Linked DNA regions of Homo sapiens. The protein of the gene in region 6 purifies or fractionates together with the protein of the main gene of each other region. This does not show direct contact. Each region holds a gene or a part of one and is shown on either strand. Other genes may lie near its edges.

What was found.
Region 1: the proteins of TAFA4 (region 6) and TM7SF3 purify together in Homo sapiens (affinity purification with mass spectrometry; 2 studies listed by BioGRID and IntAct, with this or other methods). This does not show direct contact.
Region 2: the proteins of TAFA4 (region 6) and SUSD5 purify together in Homo sapiens (affinity purification with mass spectrometry; 2 studies listed by BioGRID and IntAct, with this or other methods). This does not show direct contact.
Region 3: the proteins of TAFA4 (region 6) and INSR purify together in Homo sapiens (affinity purification with mass spectrometry; 2 studies listed by BioGRID and IntAct, with this or other methods). This does not show direct contact.
Region 4: the proteins of TAFA4 (region 6) and PTPRU purify together in Homo sapiens (affinity purification with mass spectrometry; 2 studies listed by BioGRID and IntAct, with this or other methods). This does not show direct contact.
Region 5: the proteins of TAFA4 (region 6) and PLXNA2 purify together in Homo sapiens (affinity purification with mass spectrometry; 2 studies listed by BioGRID and IntAct, with this or other methods). This does not show direct contact.
Region 7: the proteins of TAFA4 (region 6) and DSC2 purify together in Homo sapiens (affinity purification with mass spectrometry; 2 studies listed by BioGRID and IntAct, with this or other methods). This does not show direct contact.

Annotation. Positions count from the first base shown.
Region 1 is NC_000012.12:26,993,885-26,997,384, reverse strand, and holds part of TM7SF3 (transmembrane 7 superfamily member 3 precursor), read left to right. Parts: intron 1-522; coding exon 523-643; intron 644-1,976; coding exon 1,977-2,148; intron 2,149-3,500. UniProt on the Homo sapiens protein: Involved in the inhibition of cytokine-induced death of pancreatic beta cells. Involved in the promotion of insulin secretion from pancreatic beta cells.
Region 2 is NC_000003.12:33,156,311-33,159,810, forward strand, and holds part of SUSD5 (sushi domain-containing protein 5 precursor), read right to left. Parts: intron 1-3,500.
Region 3 is NC_000019.10:7,111,765-7,114,089, reverse strand, and holds the end of INSR (insulin receptor isoform Long preproprotein), read left to right. Parts: 3' UTR 1-1,825; downstream 1,826-2,325. UniProt on the Homo sapiens protein: Receptor tyrosine kinase which mediates the pleiotropic actions of insulin.
Region 4 is NC_000001.11:29,274,522-29,278,021, forward strand, and holds part of PTPRU (receptor-type tyrosine-protein phosphatase U isoform 1 precursor), read left to right. Parts: intron 1-926; coding exon 927-1,235; intron 1,236-3,500.
Region 5 is NC_000001.11:208,041,885-208,045,384, forward strand, and holds part of PLXNA2 (plexin-A2 precursor), read right to left. Parts: intron 3,327-3,500; coding exon 3,183-3,326; intron 2,859-3,182; coding exon 2,624-2,858; intron 1,320-2,623; coding exon 1,177-1,319; intron 483-1,176; coding exon 214-482; intron 1-213. UniProt on the Homo sapiens protein: Coreceptor for SEMA3A and SEMA6A. Necessary for signaling by SEMA6A and class 3 semaphorins and subsequent remodeling of the cytoskeleton. Plays a role in axon guidance, invasive growth and cell migration.
Region 6 is NC_000003.12:68,880,548-68,884,047, reverse strand, and holds part of TAFA4 (chemokine-like protein TAFA-4 precursor), read left to right. Parts: intron 1-3,202; coding exon 3,203-3,318; intron 3,319-3,500. UniProt on the Homo sapiens protein: Modulates injury-induced and chemical pain hypersensitivity. Ligand of FPR1, can chemoattract macrophages, promote phagocytosis and increase ROS release.
Region 7 is NC_000018.10:31,058,340-31,061,380, reverse strand, and holds the end of DSC2 (desmocollin-2 isoform Dsc2a preproprotein), read left to right. Parts: 3' UTR 1-2,541; downstream 2,542-3,041. UniProt on the Homo sapiens protein: A component of desmosome cell-cell junctions which are required for positive regulation of cellular adhesion.

The DNA.
Region 1 (3,500 bases), on a different chromosome or scaffold from region 6:
AGGAAGATTCCAACATGATATTGAAACATATATACACACTGTGTATCTGCATTCCAAACCTGGCCAGAAGTAGTCAACCAATAGCCGATCTTTTTAACTCTAGAGGAAAGGTTGGCAAACTACAGACCATGAGCCAGATCCAGCTTGCTGCCTGTTTTTGTACATAAAGTTTTACTGAAACACAGCTATGCCTCTTCCTGTACGTATTGCCTGTGGCTGCTTTCCTGCCACAAGGACTGGGGTGGGTAGTTACTGCAGAGACCATCAGACTGACAAAGCCTAAAATACTATTAGGCCTTTTACAGAAAATTTTGGCTCTGCCCTGCTCTAGGGCCCTGAACCTCAGTTAACTCTACCCTCTTTAACCTCAGTTCATGAAATAGTATACGACTAGAAGCTCTACGTTTATATTTAACTTCTATTTGGGAAGTTTTTGTAAGAGTAGATAGAGTTCTGTTTTTCTGAGTATGATTTGGATATGTAGGAATTGTTTGTTTAGTAACTTCCCTATTTCTTATCCAGATCCTGTCCCTGGAGGCTGTAATTTGGAGTTCGATTTAGATATTGATCCCAACATTTACTTGGAGTATAATTTCTTTGAAACGACTATCAAGTTTGCCCCAGCAAACCTAGGCTATGCGAGGTACGTCTGTCTCCCATGTCTGAGAAATGCTTTTAGAATATACATGACGACAGTTGTGTAGATTTGACCAGCTCTCTCAAGTCCCTAATTCTCTGTAGTAAAATTGAGTTAATTTTTGGGGGGAATTGATGTAATTTAAACTTCACTATTAATATTTGGACTGTCATTTACAGTTAATATTTTCCCACTTCATTCTTGTGAACTCTTTTTATTTGAAGAGCCAGATGTGAGTCTATTATGAGCTTGAAAATACATCCTGGTTTTTATAAAGCACTTTAAATATAGATAGCACTCAGTAGCCCTGAAACATCCTTTTATTTTTATAAAGATTCATTGTTTTAATTAAAGCTGTGCCTCAGTTTCTGCTTTAATAGTAATGATAGCTAACATTTGAGAACACTTGAATGCTTCCTGTGCATTGTCCGTGGTGCTGAGTGTTGTTATGTTCTTTGCCATTTAATCCTAACAATTTTATGAAGAAGGGCAATTGCTGTTATTTTACAGAAAGTTTCCCTAGGGGTTATGGAGGTTACCCTACTTGCTAACAAATGACAAATCTGCTATATTCTTCTTCTTTTTTTTTTTTTTAAATCAAAGATGAGGTCTTTCTATGTTGCCCTGGCTGGTCTTGAACTTCTTAGCTCAAGCAATCCTCCTGCTTCAGCCTCCCAAAGTGCTGGGATTACAGGCATAAGCCACTGCACCCAGCTTTTTTTTAAAAAAAATTTTTTTGCCTCCCCAGAGCTGTAGTATTTTACTCTAGGCCTGACTGATATCAGAATCCAGTTATGTAATCACCTTTGCCTGTTGGTGTTTGTCTTAGTTTGTGGTGCTGTAACAAAGTAGCACAGACTGGGTGGCTTATAAACTTCTTTCTCATGGTTCTAGAGGGTAGAAGTCCACGATCAGGATGCCAGCACAGTTGAGTTCTGGTGAAGGTTCTCGTCCAGGTTACAGACTGCTGGGTTGTCATTGTGTCCACACATGACAGAAAGAAGGCTAGAGGGCTCTCTGGGATCTCCTTTATGAGGGCAGTAATTCGATTCATTAGGGCTTCACCTTCATGACCTAATTACCTTCCAAAGGTCCCACCTCCTAATATCATCACACTGGGAGTGAGGGTCTCAGCATATTAATTTTGGGGAGACACAAACATTCAGTCCATAACAGTGCATTACTTTTCTTCAGAATACCAATTGTTGCCACTGCAAAAGGTGAACTGTTAAATTGTAATTATTGTTGCAAGTGTTTGAAATTAGGGCTCTTGGTTCCTTTTTATAGATGGGACTTGCACCACAAGAGACTGATGTTTCATTTTGTTGGTTGACTTTAGAGGCGTAGATCCCCCACCATGTGACGCTGGGACAGACCAGGACTCCAGGTGGAGGTTGCAGTATGATGTCTATCAGTATTTTCTGCCTGAGAATGACCTCACTGAGGAGATGTTGCTGAAGCATCTGCAGAGGATGGTCAGTGTGCCCCAGGTGAAGGCCAGTGCTCTCAAGGTAAATCTGAGTCCCATGATTTGTGTGGCTGGATTGTGACACCTTTGTCAGAGTTGAGAAGGGGAGAAGCTACCAGGATCTTATTTCTTTACTCTTTTCTCCTTTTTGGGGGACACTCACTTTATTCTCTTTTGTTATCATCTTGGGAGTCTTTGCTGGTGATATCTCAAAATGATGTTGGCCTTTGAGGAGATGCATGTAAATTATGTTACGTTTTAGTTGCAGCCACATCTGTGACTTGGTAATCTGAAATGTGAATGGAAGGAGGTGGTAATTTTCTGTGTACTCCCACGACTACTGGGTAAACATTTTTGGCAAGTATGAAGATTACATTGTTTTGAGAAAAAAATAATGAGAAACTGCTTAAGGATATACACATTGGCATTCATATTTGAACCCAAACTCAAAGTCTAACTTGGAGTAAAATTCTTCTCTGAGCTTTTGAATCCATGTAAACCCTTGCTCCCCAGGTGTGGACCATGGACCAGTGGCATTGGCATCACTGGGGAGTTTGTGAGAATTGTAATTCTTAAACTCCACCCTGGAACTACTGAATCAGAATTTGCATTTTATATCCCTCAGGTGATTCTGACTGGGTGCAGTGGCTCACGCCTGTAATCCCAGCACTTTGGGAGGCCGAGGCGGGTGGATCACCTGAGGTCAGGAGTTTGAGACCAGCCTGTCCAACATGGTGAAACCGTGTCTCTACTAAAAATACAAAAATTAGCCAGGCATGTTGGTAGATGCCTGTAATACCAGCTACTTGGGAGGCTGAGGCAGGAGAATTGTTTGAACCCAGGAGGTGGAGGTTGCAATGAGCCCAGATGGTGCTGTTGCACTCCAGCCCTCAGGTGATTTTTATGCATATTAAATTTTGAGACTCACTGCAATAGATCATTTTTGTGGAGGGCAGGATTTTATCTTTATGTCTTGAAAAGTGCCTAACAGCAATATAATATATGAGGTCATCCTTCAGTCTAATGGTTGATGGGTGGAGTTTTTCTAGACAGCGTCATTGTGCTTATTCACAAAATAAGAAGCTCTGTTAGTAAAGTTTATTAGTTGCTTTATTAGATATGACATTTTAATACTATTATTATTTTTATGAAGAATATAAGAACTTGTATAATAGGCTTTTTGTAGGTTACTTTTAAACTTTTAGTTAAAAGAATATTTTGTACCAGAATGTGGGGAAACCCTCAAAGACTAATGAGGGTATGTCAAAGAGATTCAGGAGCCTGTTTGAAGGGGCTTGCACTGCCAAATTTGGGGCAGTTCAAGAATCAAGAAAAAGACTGTGGTTGTCAGCCTTGAATAAATACAAATGAAACCTTCCTCAGTTGCCACCACTG
Region 2 (3,500 bases), about 36 Mb from region 6:
TTACAGGCATGAGTCACCGCGCCCGGCCCCCAAATGCATCTTTTAAAACACTGATTTGCTCTCTGTAAAACTTCCAAGTCATGAGATGATGCTGTAAAGTATTCTGAATTCAACTGAATAAGAAGCAATAGAGCCCCACAACTAGGAGACCAGAATGTAAGGACAGCCCGATGAGAGGGGAATCAACTGGTCAGGAAAGCTCAAGAAGCTGGTGTCCTCAGAAGACAGCAGCAGCCCTTTGACCTTCCCCTCTCTCAATGGTCTTTGAAAGCCAAGTCCTACTGGAAGATACACTTAAATTATTAAAACAGACTGCTTCTCCCACTTAACTTTCAACTTCGGAAGAACAAAATGCACAGAGCTCCAGAGCCAAGGTCTAGATGGAATGCTGAGGTGTCATGTGGTGCATTCCTGGGCTCTGAAACTAGATTAGTGGGTATCTGGCTTATTTCTAAAGGCTGTTAGAGAATAAGACTCTGTATCTTGCTTATTTAATGACTGACAGAGTTATAAATAAAAGTTAACAATCTTTTCTGATCTGCTCCTGACATGTAAGCCCATTCACTTTACATGTGTCCTCAGTCAGAAAAGGGAAACAGTGGATGAAGAGCAAACATCACTGACAAATATCAAATGCATGCGTGTTTTATGCTTAGAAAAGGACAGCCCAATCACACCCCATTGTGTCCTGTTCATAAAACCTCACACAAAAAACATATCAGATGGCTGGACCATTCTAATGAGCCTTGTAGAATTCACATACAGGCTCCCAGGGCTCAGTCAGGCCCTTCACATTCCCTGTTATATCCTCATTTCAAAACCTGCACTGACCCACTCCTTCATTCAACAGACCTCACTGAGTGCTGACTATGTGCTAGAGTTTGGGATCACTGGTGAACAGGATAAATACTCCCTCCCCCGTTGGAGCATATGGGACAGAATCTCATGGTCTTGCATCCTATAGGGTTGAACTTCAAAGATTTTGTGTGCATAAATTTTCACCCAACATTCTGAATGGGCGTTAGGTTTTGCATTGAAGTACTGTCCTTCCTTCAAAAAACAACAAAATGAAATGAATGCCACTATGACAGAACTTTTCACTACAATTTACCCAAAACATACAGACAAGTCACACTGAGATTTAAGAAAGTCATGACGTATATCTTTGACCTCAGGATAAGGTGGTTAGATTGCTTGTGCACATGTGTGTACTTACTGGCTGTGGAAGACAGACTGCAATAATGGCCACAAATCTCCACTTTTCCCTGCATCAAGTCCTTTTGCAATGTGACTTTGCACCTCTCTTCCTATGAAAAGATGGGGCCCATTTTTTCATCTCTAGAATCTGGGCTGACCTTGTCCCTTGTTTTGACCTACTGAACGCAATGAAAGTGTTGCATACCTTTGCTCTCTGCCTCGGAGCCCTGCCAGCTGCCATGTGAACAAACCTGGATGCTGAAGGATAAAAGACCCCATGAAGGAGAGGTAAACGTCCCAACTGAGGCCACCGTAGATTAGCCAGCTGTGGCTGACCACATTCACCTGAGTGAGCCCAGCCCAAACTGCTGACTCAAAGAACTGGAGCAGAATAAATTGTTGTTTCATGCCACTAAGTTTTTGGGGATGGTCTATTATGCAGAAAAAGCTAACTAACACACTAGCAATGAGCTGCTTGGGGAGCAGGCCCCAAGGCATTGTGTCCCTAAAGTAGAACAGTGCTTATCTACTATAGGTATTCTTATAGGTATTCTTGAGTGAGTGAAAGAATAAATGGTTCTGGAAGGAAAACAAGGAAAAGTCTGCAACAGCTCAGATCCCAAGCTTCTCTTCATTGCTACCTTAAAACTGTTCAGCACTGGGATCAGTTTCCAGGAGCACAGTCTCCCAAAACACAAGAGGACTATAGGCCCACTTCTAAATTACACGGAATAAATCACTTGTACCCATAGTCTCTCATAACACCCCGAAGACCCTCTGAAAAGACGCCATTGTTGAAGGACCAATTGAATACAAACACACACAGGTGTGCACCACATACGTGCACACAACACACACCCTCACACACTGGTGAGCAAATCGCTGCCACAGCCTGGCTGGTGAGAGCATCTCTTCTCATCCCAGCCTCTCCTTGGTGCCCACATCCCTATCAATTTCAAAGGGTAGCCTAGTAGAACTCCCTCCCCACTGCTAGTCGATTTCAAGCAGAATGGTGACCCCGCTCCATCAAAGCTTGCTCCTAATGCAAAGAAGCTTGGCATTCCACATGTCTGACCAGTCATTTTTGCCCCAAATCTGCCCCAACCAATTTGTTCTTAATTAAAGAAAAGAACATATTCTGCGGTACTGCAGAAGAAATTATCTTTGTGAAACAATACACCTTTGCCAGTTGTCTCCTAGAGGTTCTGCTGTTGAGGATGAATATCCCTGTTCTCAGCCAGAACCCGGCCCCCTTTCATGAGGGGTAAGGTAGGAAGCAGTAACTCTCCAAGATCATTTTTCCTCAAGAAGCTTCCACCCACTCGAAAGCATAGGCCATCACTTCATGCACCAGCTATACCTTAAGGCCTCTTTCCACACGTCATTTTACTAGGGAATATTTTTTGTTGCCTCATTGCAGCCCCAAGACATCGAACCGTGAAGAACCCCAGATTCTATTTTATTCCATGGTATTTTTGTCATTTCCCATTCTTGCTTGCACGAATCCGGAGAGTGCATTCATTTTCTTTCAGGTCATCAACTATAGCTCACTGACTGTTGGGAGTAAACAAGCTGTTTGTGCTGAACTCAGTCAGCATGATGAAAGGGAACAACATTTGCACAGAGCTTTGCCAAAGGCAGTCCTAGGTGATGGGAAAGCTGGCAGGCTGTCGGTGTCAAGGTGGGTGGTGAGTCGAAGTGCTTCCTCACTGTCCTCATGGACCACCATCTTGTCACCTCTGCAGATACCAAGACTGATACTGTCCACGGGAAAGCAGAATTCTACCCAAATAACCAACAGCTAAAAAGAAGTGTGACTGTAGGGATACTCAAAATCTTCCAGCACCTCAGAGTATCTGTGGCCCTGACAAGTCTCGCTGTAACCTCTGCTCCGGCTTCTTCCCTGTCTCTTATGCCCACACCCCATATTTCACTTCCATCTGCCCCAGTGCTCCCTGCCTTTTTGTTCTTGCTTCTGGCTGCCCGTCCCTCTGCTCTTCTTCCTCCTTCTTCTACCTCATCACTTATGTTCCAGACCACTAGAATATGTACTGGGGATACAGGCCAAAATTGCCTTATGAGCAGGGTGCATTACAGGCTACACTTGAAAATATCTAAGTGTTCCAGTTGAAACTGTATCGTATATTTTTCCCTCCCCCATACCTACCAAAATGGGGAAACACCACCAAACACACCCATACACACACACACACACACAAACACAAACATAAAACTGGGCTTACTGAATGTGAATTTCTAAAAATGAGGAAACTATACTAAACATCAGCAAAAACATTTTACCA
Region 3 (2,325 bases), on a different chromosome or scaffold from region 6:
ATTAATGTGCTGAACGCTTTTTTTTTTTTTTTTTTTTTTTTTGCAACAACACCTTGGACCTCTGTGTTGGGGTTTGACTGACCTCAAGCTGATATTATTGGACCTTGTGCAGCTTTGATAACCCATGTGAGAGTCTAGGCAGGACCAGTGGGGCCCAAATCTTGCTGCTCTTGTACTTTTAGGCACTGCCCTTGCAGACTCACCTTTCTCCACCTGCCCTGGAGAAAGGTAGGGTGTGCTGGGCCTGCCCCTTGCAAATGGGATTCACCAGTTTCATTTATTTGACTCTACTGCCACAGTGAAAAGAGCAAACAGCTATTGGGTTGCAAACCTCCTTTGACATTAGGAAATGTTGACTTTGTAACAATAAAACTTTGGTCCTAGAAAGACACGGTTGTCCTGGGAGTTTGTAGTGTTAAGTTGCAACAACAACAACAAAAAGCAACAAAACCAGCTTAGGATAACACTTTTTGTTGCTTGTTCTTAAAGATGTCTCACTATGATTAAAACCCTTTTCATTAATGTAGTGAAAGCCACACAGGAGTTCCTTCTTCCAGGAGGAGAATACCAAGCACATCACTTTCTCTCTGCATCAGTGATGTCAAATACGCATCAGAAAATGTTCAGGTTTTAGGAGCTGTCCTAGGTGCTGTTTCATCATTGGAAGCAGTGAGAAAGAGAAGCACTGCTGCTTGTCTGGATATAGGCTGAGGATGATTGAGAGAAGCTGTGGGAACTGACACAAGGGTCTGCATAGGTCATCCTGTGACCCTGGGGACTATGTTACCAACTGACAGACAGATCTTTCACTGTATCCTAGCAGGGCAGGTAGTCCACCAAGAAATGTGCTTATTGGATTGGGAGGTGTTTATTTGTAGTCTGCTGTAACACGTGTGAAAGAGCAGGAGCGTCATCAGCATATGACTTGCGCTGGTCATCCGGTAAATGGATGTGCTGTAGTCCCAGTGCTAATCATTTCTCTCCTTCACAGTGGGTGGAAGTTTAGGGTTAAATGTCCTTTGAATGTCACCTGGTGAGTCCTTGACACCTTAGGCTCTTCAGAAACAATGGTTTTGTTGAGGATGGGGAACAGGGAATGCCGATTTTATATACATGGTACACAGAGAGGGGTGTCACTTCAGAAAATCTTCCAGCATGTTCTTCAGAATATTAATTTATATGCGAGGTGAGGTTGGGAATGAAAAGAACAGGTCAGCACTTTTTTTTTTCCTAGAACATACAAAAGAACATGGTGGACTTTCAGGGAGTGCAATGGAAGGTGAATATTTCCTTAAGGGTCCCCGAGAAATGGGAGTGAGGGGAGGGGACACAATGGCTTTTTGAGCTTACTTTTACCTTCTGATACTAGTCAAGGTCCAGAACCAGCCACCAGCCAAATTTCTATCTGGGTGCGGGCCACTGAAAATCCTTGTTAAAAACCAGATCACAAATCTGGGGCTCTTGGTCCCATTGGAGAAGGAAGGAAGAGCCTCAAAATAAGTGTGCACCCATGCACATATTCAGGAACAGCTTGTTTAGTCTTTACACTTTGCCTGAAAGTTGCTTCTCCTCGTCCCTTTGTGTGCCTGGGTGGCCTCGGCCCTGTGCGTTGGCAACGCAGGATCAAATGTGCTGCAGCTTTTGCAGAAAACAACTCAGAAACACAAAACCCCCCAACAGCTCAATTATTATTTTTTCAATGTTTTCCTACAAGAGCCAAGTAGCACCATGTACAGAAGACGCCTTTTTTTTTGGAATATTGAAATCGTTCTGCATGTAAAATATGGGATAATGACCTGTTTATATTAAAATTCTGATTAAATTATCTGAGAATACGCTTGTTTTTGTGTGGTGTCCCGGTAAGGACCTGTCGTGTGGTCGGGGGATGTGGCTATGAGTTGGGCTGTGTTAAGGAAAACCTCTTGGAATATGTAGGTGCCTTTTTTTAGAGGAGAAAAACACCTAGATTCTTCCACACATGAAAAGGGAGGTTAAATAGTTGCTACCAGCAGAGTTGATGACTCGTAGGGACATACTTGTATGGCCAAACTGGTGGTTTAAATATTGCACTATTTCCATACCATTTGGTAAGTAAGCGCTTCCCCAAGGGCTCCCAGACCTCCCCATGGTCCAACCACTAAAGGGTTCACTCCGAGAATACCAATGAACCTTCAAGATCTTGCTCTATTCTGACATGCGGGAAACTCATATGTTAAGTATTTTCAATGTCATCCTGGGAGTGGAGACCTGTCCCAGGTTGGGTGGACAGGTGAGTGACCATGGGTTAGACCATGGGATTGAAAGCCTTTTGAATAGTCTTTCTTG
Region 4 (3,500 bases), on a different chromosome or scaffold from region 6:
GTCATGTATTTCTGTTTCTGTTTCCCTGTCATTCTCTGGCTTTATTTAACTATTTGGCTCTCATTTCCCTCATTACCCTGATTTCTGTATGTTATTATATTATATGTATTACTATACATTGTTTCAGAACAAGTTTGGAATTAATACCTTAAGAAAAATATATCAACAGTTTGATTCAGACTGGCCTGTTGTAGTCCAGGGTGATCTTGAATTAGGAGGTGAACTGTGCTATTAAAAATAAATTATTGGCCGGGTGCGGTGGCTCACACCTGTAACCCAAGCACTTTGGGAGGCTGAGGTGGGTGGATCACTTGAGGTCAGGAGTTCAAGACCAGCCTGGCCAACATGTGAAACGCTATCTCTACCAAAAATACAAAAATTAGCCAGGCGTGGTGGTGTACGCCTGTAATCCCAGCTACTTGGGAGTCTGAGGTGGAAGGATTGCTTGAACCTGGGAGGCAGAGGTTGCAGTGAGCCTAGATCATGCCATTGCACTCCCTCCTGGGTGACAGAGTGAGCCTCTGTCAAAAAAAAAAAAAAAAAAGCTAATATTTTTGAGGGCTTATTGTATATTAGCCATTGTCATGCATCCTTTGTGTGTATTTCCTTAAACCTTACAATGATCCTATGAGGCAGGGCCTATTATCTTTTCATTTTGCAGTTGAGGAATCTAAGGATCAGAGGGGTGAAGTGATTCAGCCAGCAGTTGCCAGCTGCAAGTGGCAGAGCCAGGATTCAAATGTAGTCCGCCTGACTCCAAAGCACATACTTTTACTCCCTGTTTGATGTTCTAGGGGTCCCCTGAGCTCTTGGGGGCAATGGAGGGATGATTTCAGGCAGCTGACTGATGCTTTCTCTCCCTGTTCTTCTTCCTCTTCTCTTCCCATTTCTTCTAACTTCTTCTCTCTGCTTCCTGCATTCTCCAGAGCCCATGAGGGCCCCCAAAGGCCTGGCTTTTGCTGAGATCCAGGCCCGTCAGCTGACCCTGCAGTGGGAACCACTGGGCTACAACGTGACGCGTTGCCACACCTATACTGTGTCGCTGTGCTATCACTACACCCTGGGCAGCAGCCACAACCAGACCATCCGAGAGTGTGTGAAGACAGAGCAAGGTGTCAGCCGCTACACCATCAAGAACCTGCTGCCCTATCGGAACGTTCACGTGAGGCTTGTCCTCACTAACCCTGAGGGGCGCAAAGAGGGCAAGGAGGTCACTTTCCAGACGGATGAGGATGGTAAGAGTCTCAGTCCCAATTCCCGGGGCCCTGTGTACCTCCCACAGATACGCCATGTCTGAGACTGAAATTTACTGAGGGTATTTTTTTCTTTTTTTTGCTTAGGATTAAACCAACTGTATAACACCAAAGTAGTGATAGCTCCTATTTTTTCTCTGGAAGACTTTGGGTTAGATTGGTCTAATTTCTTTCCTTAAGTGTTTGAAAGAATTCAGCAGTGAAGCCATTTGGGCATAGAGTTTTCTTTGTGGCAAGGTTTTTAGTAAATTTTAGTTTTTAAAATAGATATTGGGATATTCAGATTTTTTTATTCTTGTATCAGTTTAGATGGACTGTATTTTTTAAGGAATTTGTTCATTACACCTAAATTGTCAAATTTCTTGAGATAATGTTGTTTATAATTTTTTTTATTTATTTAGAGACAGAGTCTTGCTCTGTTGCCCAGGCTGGAGTACAGTGGCACCATCTCAGTTTGCTGCAGCCTCCTCCTCCCAGGCTCAAGCGATCCTCCCACCTCAGCCTCCTGAGCTGGGACTACAGGCATGCACCACCACGCCAAGCTAGTTTATTTATTTTTGAGGCAGGGACTCACACTTTTGTCCAGGTGGGAGTGCAGTGTCATGATTATGGCTCACTGCAGCCTCGACCTCCCAGGCTCAAATGATCACTCTACCTCAGCCTCCCAAGTAGCTGGGACTATAGACGTGCACTGCCATGCCTGGCTAATTTTTTTGTATTTTTTGTAGAGACGGGGTTTTGCCATGTTGCCCAGGCTGGTCTCGAACTCCTGGGCTCAAGTGATCCACCCACCTTGGCCTCCAAAAGTGCTGGGATTACAGGCATGAGCCACTTCATTTGCCAATATTCTTTTATTATATTTATTTAATGTCCATAGGCTCTATAGTGATATCATCTTTTTCATTTCTGATATTGGTAATTTCTGTTTTCTTTTTTCTTGTTTACCCTTGTGAAGACTGTATAAATTAATCTTTCCAAAGAACCAACTGTTGGCTTACTTGATTTTCTTTATTTTCTATTTTTTATTTCCTTTGTTATACTTTCTTTGGAGTTGATTTGCTGTTCTGTTTGCCTTTTGAGATAGAAGTTTCTTAGATCATTAATACTGAGCCCTTCTTCATTTCTAATATACGTGTTTAAAGCTACACATTTTCCTCTAAGTCCTGCTTTAGCTGTGTCCCACAAGTTTTGATATTTCCTATCTTCATTATCATTCAGTTCAATTTGTTGTCTATACAATTGAACTGTTATTTCTGTTATAATTTCTGCTTTGACCTAAGAGTTACTTAGAATTATGTTGCTTAATTTCTAAGCAATTGGGACTTTTCTTTTTTGTTTGTTTTTGAGACACAGTTTCACTCTGTCACCCAGGCTGGAGTGCAGTGGCACAATCTCGGCTCACTGCAAACTCCGCCTTCTGGGTTCAAGTGATTCTCATGCCTCAGCCTCCTGAGTAGCTGGGATTTCAGGTGCCCGCCACCACGCCTGGCTAATTTTTGTATTTTTAGTAGAGACAGGGTTTCATCATGTTGGCCAGGCTGGTCTCGAACTCCTGACCTCAGGTGATCTGCCCACCTTGGCCCTGCAAAGTGCGGAGATTATAGGCATGAGCCACTGCACCTGGCCAGCAATTGGGACTTTTCTAATTGTCTTTTTATTATTGATTTCTAGGTTAATTCCACTGTAGTCAGAGTATATACTCTAAATTTTATTTTGTGAAATTTCATCTTTACTTTATGGCCCAACATATTGTTAAATTTTGGTAAATGTTCCAGTGTATTTGAAAAGAACATGTATTCTGTTGCTGTTGAATGCAGTGTTCTACATATGTCAAACTAATATTTAGCCCTTAGCACATTCAAGCACCATTCTGAATGGTTTTGATATATTACTGCATTTAATACCCATGACAACCCTATGTGGTAGGTTACTATTTCTATTCCCATTTTATTTCTATTCCCATTTTACAGAAGAAGTCACAGAAAGCCTGGCTTTCTAACCTGACCATCTGGCTTCACAGTTGTCATTCTTTTTTTTTTTTTTTTTTTTTTTTTTTTTTTTTGAGATGGAGTCTTGTTCTGTTGCCCAGGCTGGAGAGCAGTGGTGCAATCTCAACTCACTGCAACCTCTGCCTTCCTGGTTCCAGCGATTCTCCCACCTCAGCCTGTCGAGTAACTGGGATTATAGGCACCTACCACTACGCCGGCTAATTTTTTGTATTTTTGGTAGAGATGGGGGTTTCACCAT
Region 5 (3,500 bases), on a different chromosome or scaffold from region 6:
TCACACCTGGGTGACTTCAGACTCTGTAGTCTCCCTGGGCTGAGGGAAAGTCAGATTCTGCCCTGCAGAGACGTGAGGACACAGGCTGCTCTGAATGGGTGCCCCTTCTGGGGAGTGGGCCTTCTCATGCTGCTTGTGGGGCCTGCTATAATGAGGTGCTCTGTCCAGGTTCAGACTCCTGCCACCCTCTCCACCCACTGCTGCGGGCCAGACCTCCGGAGTAGCAGCTTGGGGTGGTTCTTGTTCTCCAGGTTCTTATCGATGAGGTCAGAGAGCAGCTGCTTGAGGACATCAGTGGCATATTCCAGGCGGCCCTGCAGGCCGGTCATGATGAGCGAAGCCACGTTGCCCCGGTCGCGCATGGAGAAACTGCGCTGCAGCTCCAGGGTGCGGATGAAGGTCAGCAGGAACACCTTGTTGTTGATGAGCTGGGCAAAGAGCTTCAGGGCCTTCTCCACGTGCTGCTGCCCGTTTCCTTGTACCTGGGGTGGGGTGTGGTGGAGGCGACGCCCTCAGAGGACAGGCATCGGGCCTCCTACCTGAGGGTCTCACTGAGGGCCTGCTGGCGATGACACTAGCTGTAGGACCCTATGTTTGAGGCCTATAACCAACCCCACCCCATTCCACTCACCCGTGATGATGTAGGAACAGCTGGCTCTAAGGTCGACAGTCTGCTCTGACCTTGCACTGGGCCGGGGAGGCTGGGCTCCATGCGGAGCTCTCAGAGGGGAGGCTGCCTGATTTTCCCAAGGATAGAATAGGAGATGCCCCCTCAAACTTCTTCAGTTTACTAGTCTCCCCTTAATCTCCTCTGCCTGATTTATTATCTTTAGTAAAACAAACCAACAAATGAACAAACAAACCTCATAGAATCCTGTGTCTTTCTTTAAGCCATCTTAAATCCATTTTAGAATGAGGCAGGATCTTAGTTAATTAGTTCAGTCATTAATTAAAAAATGACAAACAATGAGCTTTACCCTGGAACCATCCCAAGGAGCCTGGGTGCCCCCTCAGCCGTAACCTTCCTGATAGCTCTGTTGCTGAGATGCTGTTACAAACTACTGACCCCTCTTCCCTGCTAACCTTACTCAGTACTGCTGAGTCTCATCTGGATTTCCTAGGATACCCTGGGCCTGCATCCCTGCTGGGTGGCTGGGCCCAGGAGGCAGGCATTACCTCCAGCTCCCGCAGGACGGGGTGGTCCTCGATGCCCGGGAACAGGACTCGCATAGCGTAGGTACGATAGTCCAGGTAAGGGATTCCTGAGCGGTCCAGGTCACTGGTCAACTCATTGATATCCGTCTGGAGCTCAGCAAAAGCTATGAGAATAAGCAGACGGAGAGGCTCGTGGGGAAGCCCCAGTCGGGGGAGGAGAAAGAGGGAGAAGAAGTTTGCAAAGGACGAGGGGAGGACCTTTTGTAGAGACTCTGAGGATTACGGGAGTGTGTCTCCAGAGGGCGGGGCTACTCCCAGCTGTTTTTAGGTGGTGGGGAAATGGGTGATTTTTATGTTATTTTCTCCTCTATACTTATCTATAATTTCAAATTTTCTCTTTACATATTACAAGTGTAGTTTCAACAAGGAAAAAAAAGTATCATGATTGGGCCGTTTAGTAAAGATCACGGAGATGCTGGAGGCAGGTGAGAGACCATGGCTGAGGGGGTCCAGCAAAGACCAGAACAGGCAAAGTGCTGCCCTTTTCTAATCAAGGTAATAAATCAAGATGCAAAAGCCTAGGGGAGGTCTGGTCATGAGACGCTCAGCTGAGAGCCGAGTTTGGGAAGGCAAGGGCTTCAGAAGCCTCACCTTGGTGGTGGCACACCTGTCTTCCTGGCTCCTTCCTCTGCCAAACTCACCAGCCCTGTTGCCAGGAGGAACCTTGGCTCCACATGTCCTATTTCCCAGCCCAGCTCTTCCCTGTCATCCAGCAGAGGGCTTGTTTCTGATCTTGACATTTGCAGCAAAAGGAGAAATGTTTTCATTCCTAATTGAGCTGTTTACCCAGAGAGCCTGCCAGGTCCTCAGCCTGAGAGGACGCCAGGTACACTCGTCACCTCGAGGCTGTGGTTGCGTGGGACATGGGAGAAAACACAATCTGCACTCCCACACACGTCCACAGCCAAGGACACCAGCAAGTGGCGGCCTTCAGAGCGCTCAGCCTGCAGCACTGATGGAAAACAAACCCTGGGGGAGATGAGGCAGGTGCTTGTCTGCCTTTGCTGCCGCTGCTCCCACGTGCTGCGAAGACAGTGTGCAGAAAAACAAGAGCTGGACACTCCCATGGGGGATCTAGAGTCTGGGGCTGTGGAGCCTGGGGACTCTGACTGTGGGGACATTGAGGCCCTGAGAGGGAGAAAGTGTTTGCCAGATTGTGGGATGGGTCAGGGCAAAGAAGGGACTAGAACAATGCAATTGGACCTGGGTCCTCATGCAGTGGGCATTCTTCATTGGACATCTCTGACCCTATAAGCAAAAGAAGTTCTGGGAAAACAGGGGTGAAAGTGGAATGCAGAGGCATGGCTGGCAGCGATGGGAGTAAAGATAGGAGTTGTCTGCAGGGAGAAGGGCAATAAGGCAGGTGGAGAAAGAGGGACCCAGCAAATGAGGGTGTGCTTCCACTAACCTTCCTTGCACTCCAAGGCCACACGGGACTCCAGATTGTCCATCTGCATTTGCAGCCGCTTGAGAGTGAGGTCATTTTCTCGAGACTTGCGCTTGTAGGCAATGAGGACGATGATGACGATGATGAGGAGGAGGCTGCCGCCGGCCGCGATGCTGACGATGGCTGGCAGGGTCAGCAAGCTGTCTGAGATGACACTCACCGAGCCAGGCGAGAACACCATCCCGCCCACGTGAACCTGTGCATTGTACACATACAGACGCACATGGATGCACACAGGTGTAGAGCCCGGGCATGCCAGCAGATCCTTACAGTGCGAGGAAGGACATGACAGACCACAACCACACAGTGCAGCTCTAGATAAAAAGCAATTTCCTGCCTCGGCATCTGCCTTTCTTTTCTTGTGTTCTCAGCTTATACCCAATTTGATGTAGGACCCAGAGATGAGGAGATATGGAGGGGGTGAGTCAGGCAACGAGACAGAAGAGAGCCTTTCCTTAGGACAGATCACACATGCACCACGAGGCGGGAAGGAGGCATTACAGACGCAGGGCTCACTCACCATGACCTTGTGCTGCCCGGTGAGGTTGGGAGGCTCGCAGAGAAGCTGGGTCTCAGATACGGTGACAGCACAAGGGGTCTCTCCGATGAGCACAGTGTAGTTGAGTTTGGCCCCTCCAGAGGCAGGAGGGCAGAGGTTTTTGCCCTGTAGAGAATAGCAGTCTTTATAGGCATAATTGACACATGCACGCACAAGTTAATTGCCTACTTAAAAAGAGATTAAGGAGACGGGGAAGGGCAGCAGTGCAAAAACCAGGAAATGACTCCTTGGCAAGTTTTTGTGGAGGGGACTTCTAACAGCCATGATCTAGAGAGAAAG
Region 6 (3,500 bases):
TGGCTGTGTCATAATTTGTTTAACCAGTCTCATACTGTTAAACATTTGGATCATCATTTTTTTTTGTCTTTCCCTCCCTGCCTCCCTGCCTGCCTGCCTGCCTGCCTTCTTTTTTTGAGACAGGGTCTCACTCTTTGCTCAGGCTGGAGTGTGGTGGTATAATCATAGCTCGCTCCTGCCTTGAATTCCTGGCCTCAAGCGTTCCTTCCACCTCGGTCTCCCAGTGTGCTGGGATTACAGGCATGAGCCACCATGCATGGCCAGATCATTTTCAATAGTATAAACAATAAAAAAAAGTCCCATACGTTGCTGGTTATTTCTTTAGGGTTAAATCCTATAAGTGATCTGCTGGATTGTAAACGTTTGACATACATGATCAAATTATCGATCAATTTATGGTTTTATCAAGTTAAACTCTTTCTCTTTGTATTAGAGATATTTCATTCAATTATTGCCAACAGTGGGACATTATTTTAAATATTTTAATTGCTTTCCTTTGAGTGTGGGTGGCATTGTGGTTTTGATGAGTTTCACATCTTTGATTAAATTACACCTGTAAGGCATAGATGAAGGGATTTCACAGGTGTTTTTAAGGTTTCACATACACTGAATTTAGTTAATCAAAAGAGAGACTATCCTGGGTGGGGCTGACCTAATCAGATAAGCCCTAAAAGGGGACTGAGCCTTTCCTGGAGGAAGAGATTCAAACCATGAAGGAGCACGTGCAGGGGCCATGTGGCAAAGACATGAAGGGCTTGAGAGCAGTTCCTGGTCAATAGCAAGAATACGGGGAATACAGAGAGTCCCAAGAAAATGGCTTTTGCCAACAACCTGAGAGCACTTGGAAGTGATCCTTCCCCAGTTGAGCCTCCAGATGAGGACACACCCAGCTGACACCTTGATTTTAGCCTGTGAGTTTCTGAGCAGAAGACCCAGCCAGAACATGCCAGACTCCTGACTTACAGAAACTGTGTGATAATATATCGGTGTTGTTTCAAACTGCTCCTGTCCAAGCTCTAACTAGGCCCGACCCTGCTTAGCTTCTGAGATCAGGTGGGTTGAGGGTAGTATGGCTATAGATTGTTGTTTTAAACTTCTAAGTTTGGTAATTTGCTTCAGACATTGCTAACATTCTAAACTTACACAGAAACATGGAGCCTCTCTGCTTTGAAGGGCCTTTCGTTTCTCAAAGCATGCCTTCCATCTCCACCTCAGTGTACACACATGAAGAGGACAGAAACTCTAGAAACAGCTTGAAAGGTGGCAAAGAAAATAATACGTGGATCTTACCTGAGTTCTAGATGCTATTATCAATCACATAATTTGGGGGAAGTCCAGAGGCTCAAATTCCGGTATTGGATGATTTATTTTTTGTTAATGTAACACTCTGTCTCACACATAATGTTTTAAAATTCCAGTTATTACCCCAATATCAGCTATCAATCTATTTGTTACAAAGGCTTATTCCTCTTACCCAAGGATCAGAAGTTCAAATGGCCACATGTAAATGAGTTGGGCTGGTTGGGCCCAAGGTACTGACTAGTGGGAGGGACTGTGGAGACCCTTCTAGGGGCAGCTGCGACCACGGCAGCCTGTTACTCCCATGTGGAAATGTGAGCCCGGGGATGCCAGGAATAATTTTTCAAGAGAATCTGGATTCTGATTTGCAATCTGGACATTGTATGTGTTGGCAACCAATTCAATTTCTTTCTTTTTTTTTTTTAAAGCACAGATCAAACAAAACACATTTGCAGGCTGGATCAGATACCCTGGCTTCCAGTTTGTCATAATTAGTGGCCCCAAAAGGGACAATTTCAAGGCATCACATAAATGAAAGATTAATTTTTTATTGCTGCATTGCAAATTACCCAACATAGCCGTTTAAAACCATTTTGAAACAGTTTAAAAGGGCAAAAAGAAGCCAGTGCTTTTTGTTGCCTTTAACACCAAGTTCTTCAAACATGATTGGCCTGGCTACTTAAAAAGCAGACCAAATCTCAAATCAATGAGCAATACACCCTTTAACAAGATCTATTTGACGGAATTGTGAGAGGTCACGGAGAGAGAATGTTGGCAGCAGAACATGTGTGTGCCTCGGCGTATGGTGTGGCATTCAATTCCCCTGAGGCTTTGATGTGTTTTCGTGGAGTAGGGGACTGGGACTTTCGTAGAGGCACTGCTAGGTTGCTGGGAGCTGGAGATGCTTCCTTATAGGACTTCCTTAGGGGTCTTGCCTATAGTGTGACTCAGGCAAGAAGCCAAACTCAGGTACCATGTTTTTATTGTCGGCCCATAAGTGTGTATACATTTGCATATATTAAACAGGGGTTTCTTTGATCCATTGTGGTAATAATAGATGCCATGAGGCATGTGTAAGGAAGAACCTATTAGCACCGGAATTTCAGATGCCAAATGCGGTGAGTTTTGCTTCAAAAGTTAATATAAAAAAAGCAAACAAAAAAAGTTAATCGAGTTCTATCTACTTAATTCCCTTCTGATGTTATAAAATGGCAGAAAGTTAGGCAGCTGGGAATAATGTTTTTGATATCTTCCTTTTTTTTACTCTTTTGTTTTAGAATAGACCATGCAACTGAATTGTCATGTGAACGGAATTGTTTTTGAGCAACTGTTTTGATACTGTCCATCATACGAAGTTAAATTTATTTTATATTCACCTGTATTTGCCCATACTCCTTCCCAAAGGAGGAGTTGAGATTGGTTTAATCAACTATGAACCTAGTCTTCCAGACCAGAAAGCCTTAGGGTACAGTCAGAGAAACCAGGAGAAAGTTCTTGGACCACATGTGCAAAATCTCCATGGATTCTTTCAGATCCAGAAAACATATATATTTTATTTGGATCTGGCTCTAAGTGTGTTGCTTTTACATCTCATGGTATAAAATAGAATAAAATCCCCATGCTCTATTAGGGTAACTCAGGCAACAACTTGCAGATTCATAAATAAGCTTCTCACTGATGCATAGTGCTAACTTGGAAAACTCTTAATTATCAAAGGTTTTTATTGAAAATTTAGTTAATGCTAAGTGCAAATAAGGTTTGATTGGTCTTCTGTTTTCTTGGGAGAAAGGAATTCCAGCTCCAGGGATCTGCCCCTGCTTTCTCCCGCCTTCCTAGAATGGTGCTTGCCAGGGAGTCTGGCCTTCCTCAGCCCTCACTGACTCCAGCCCTGCTTTTCCTCCAGGATGAGAGTCTGTGCTAAGTCAGTGTTGCTGTCGCACTGGCTCTTTCTAGCCTACGTGTTAATGGTGTGCTGTAAGCTGATGTCCGCCTCAAGCCAGCACCTCCGGGGACATGCAGGTAAGCCCTTTAAGCTCATTATGCACTGCTGAGATAATAAAACCCCTCCAAATGTCAGAGTCCACATTTTAGACACAGATAACTGATGTGAGCTTCTGATGGTGTGTAAATAACTAGAGGAAGCATGAAATATGGCGGAGTAACACAGTTTAATGGTTTAGTGCTTTAAGAGTCCTTTAAAA
Region 7 (3,041 bases), on a different chromosome or scaffold from region 6:
TCCCTTTGTGACTGTACCTTTGTATCCCTACAGAAAATCTGGGCATAGCTGAGAGGTTAGAATTGTGGAGTTTCTGCTAGCCACATCTTTTCTGTTTACTTATTTTGTTAGGATTCAAGGGAGAGGACAGAGCAGAACACTCACTGCTTTTCAGTTAACAAATATGAAGGCAAACTTGCTGATATATTCGCTTGTATAATTTTTAGAGTGTGTTTCACTGACCATCAGCATCAGAATCACCCTGGTGTTGCTGAAAATAGAGATCCCTCATGAATCAGTCACAGGAGTAACAGGCTAGTAGGGGAAAAGTATAGAAGCCTTCACTTTTCAATACATTTTCTAGGTCATTTTTTCTTACTCTAAAGTTTGACAATCGTTAGGGTTTTAGTAACTGGGTTTATTGATTATTTGGTGGTTTATGAAACTTAAGTATTTAAAATTTGCCTTTTCATATAAAACATATTAAGCAAAATGCTAGAAATGTACCAAAGAGTTGAAACACATTGATGAGTAAAATTTCACAATGTCTGCAAATTAAGCATTTCAGAATGTACATTGTTCCCTGTGGTTTCTACTTTCTACATGCATGTGAACGAGAGAAATAGTCTTAAGGTAGGAATGCAGAACAAAGCCACACAGAAAACATTTAATAAAAATTAACAAGTTTTGCCACATAAATGCTGCTAGTCAAGAAGATGTATGCAAAGTAAGTTGCATATATTTTTAAAAATCAGAATTGCCAAATCTCCAGAGATAAATAGAACTAGAAAGGTCAACAGCAGGTGGAACAAGTGACTGTCCAGAAGGCAGCAACTGTTTGGCATCACTGTGCTGTTGTGTGGGGACCTGTGTCAGGTGGGGTAACAGGTAATGCTCACTGACTGTGGCGGCCAGGAGCTTCAGAGGGGCCTGTGAATCAGGGATGGGAGATGAGGGTAGAGACGAGACTTTTCAGCTTAAGGAGTGTTCCCCTGGGAACAGGGCCAATTGGAAAACTCCCAGGCACCAAGGACATGAGTTAACCAATAGGGAATGAGAGGCTCAGAAAGCCAGAGGTGAAAGGAGCAGAGGGTGTCAATATACACAAGATGTGATGCAGAATTACCAATGAAATCAAGTAAAAGGGATTTATCCAAAAGAAGTAAGAGAATAGTGTAAAGATTCTACTCACATGCAAGGATGTTTGTCTCAGTGGCATTAAATATATGAATAACTGAAAATAAACTAAATGTTCCATGACAGGGAAGTAATTAAATGATGTATGATCCATTACTGTGATACAATGTACCATAATTGAGGACAATGGAAACAATGATCACACACAGACTTCGCAGTCAGAAAGACGTGGATCCAAATCTCAGCTTTGTTCTTGCTGTGTTACCTTGGGAAATCACAGAAACCTCAAATTTCTAGCATATCAAATAAGGACAAATTAGGAATAAATTATATAATTCACATAAAGATCCTAGCTTACTGCTTGGCTCATCAGTATATCAATAACCAGCAGCTATCACTATTGTGATATGATGATGGAATATCATGCAATCATTTTATTTTGAAAACTTTAATTAAATGGGAAAAGACATAAACTATAGTAGTATTTTAAAACTAGGATAGGTTTCCAAATTATTATAATCTCACATTTAAATAAATATGAGACTATCTGTAATACACTAAGATATTGAGTGATAAATCCTCGGTAAATGAAATATTTATTCATTGTGTGTTTCCATGTTTTCATTTTACCACAAGCATTTATAATTTATAACATTGAGGGAAAAGTTCATGTAAATGAAATACAGAGCAAGAAAAACTCACAGGCTTTAGAATTTGGGGAGCTTACAGGCCTGTGAAGAAAAGCCTTTTCATCTTAGCTTTAATAAATAAAGTTTTCACTGAACATATTATATTTACAGTAAATGATTAAATTGAAAGCAAAAAGAAAATACTGTATCATCTCACATTATCATAACTGAGTGCATTCATGTGCTTTTGGTCTTAAAATTTTACTTTAACGCACTTAGGATTTGTCGTCAGTAATTTGTTATGCACTATCTAGACTAAGAATAGGTATTAATTTACTAGAATTGTCAAATGAAATATTTCAAGCAAAGTTTGCATAATGAATGCAAGTTTAAACCAATTAAATGTGTTCACTTTTTAGCAAGCTAAGCTGCTCCTTATTTCTCCTGTAGTAGACACAATCACAGTTAATCTTTGCACAATGCATCGCATTCTCCATGCAACCTAACAGAGCGGTCTGGGATAGAGCCTGAACTTTGGGTCCCTTGGGGCCCAACAGGCAAGGTTCAGATCTGGGCTCTACCACAAACCATCTGTGTAACCTGAACCTCCCTAGTCTTCAGTTTCCTCATCTGCTTTAAAAAATTGCTAGAACATAGTTCTATGTAAATGTTCGGTGTTAAAATTTATTTGGTATCTACTGTATGTAAGATATGGCCTCTGCTCTCAAAAATATGTAGTCCCAGAAGTGATATAATATGTTCACGGAGACGTACTATTAAAAAGTGCCACAAAAAATCTGTAATGGAATGTTCTTACAAATATTACGTGTGCGTGTGTGTGTGTGTGTGTGTGTGTGTGTGTGACCTTTTTTAGCAAGAGATGTCCCAATCCCTTCACATTTACATCATTACAGAATTCCTTTGGAATCAATGGCAAATGTCCTCCTGTGGGGAGCCAGGTGTACTGTGAGTTTCTGTTATCATTCAGGGAAGAAAGCTGTCAAAAGCTTGCTTGTTTTAAAATTGTAAACAAGTTAGTGCTGGACATTGGGAATTTTACCTTATTATAATAAACAAAATCAATTTTGTTACTTGTTGAGCCTTGTTCCGGCGGCAGTTTAAGTTATTTATTAAACAAATAAATTGAGTCCTTTTGAGGTTTCTTCTTAAGTTTTCTTAGGGCAGGTTTGGTGGAGACTTTAGGGCTAACTTAAGTCCTTTGCTGAGGTGTGACTCCACCAAATGTCCAGAGTTTTCAGAGGAAGATCTTTTCTTTCCACTGCCTCAAACTTCAAT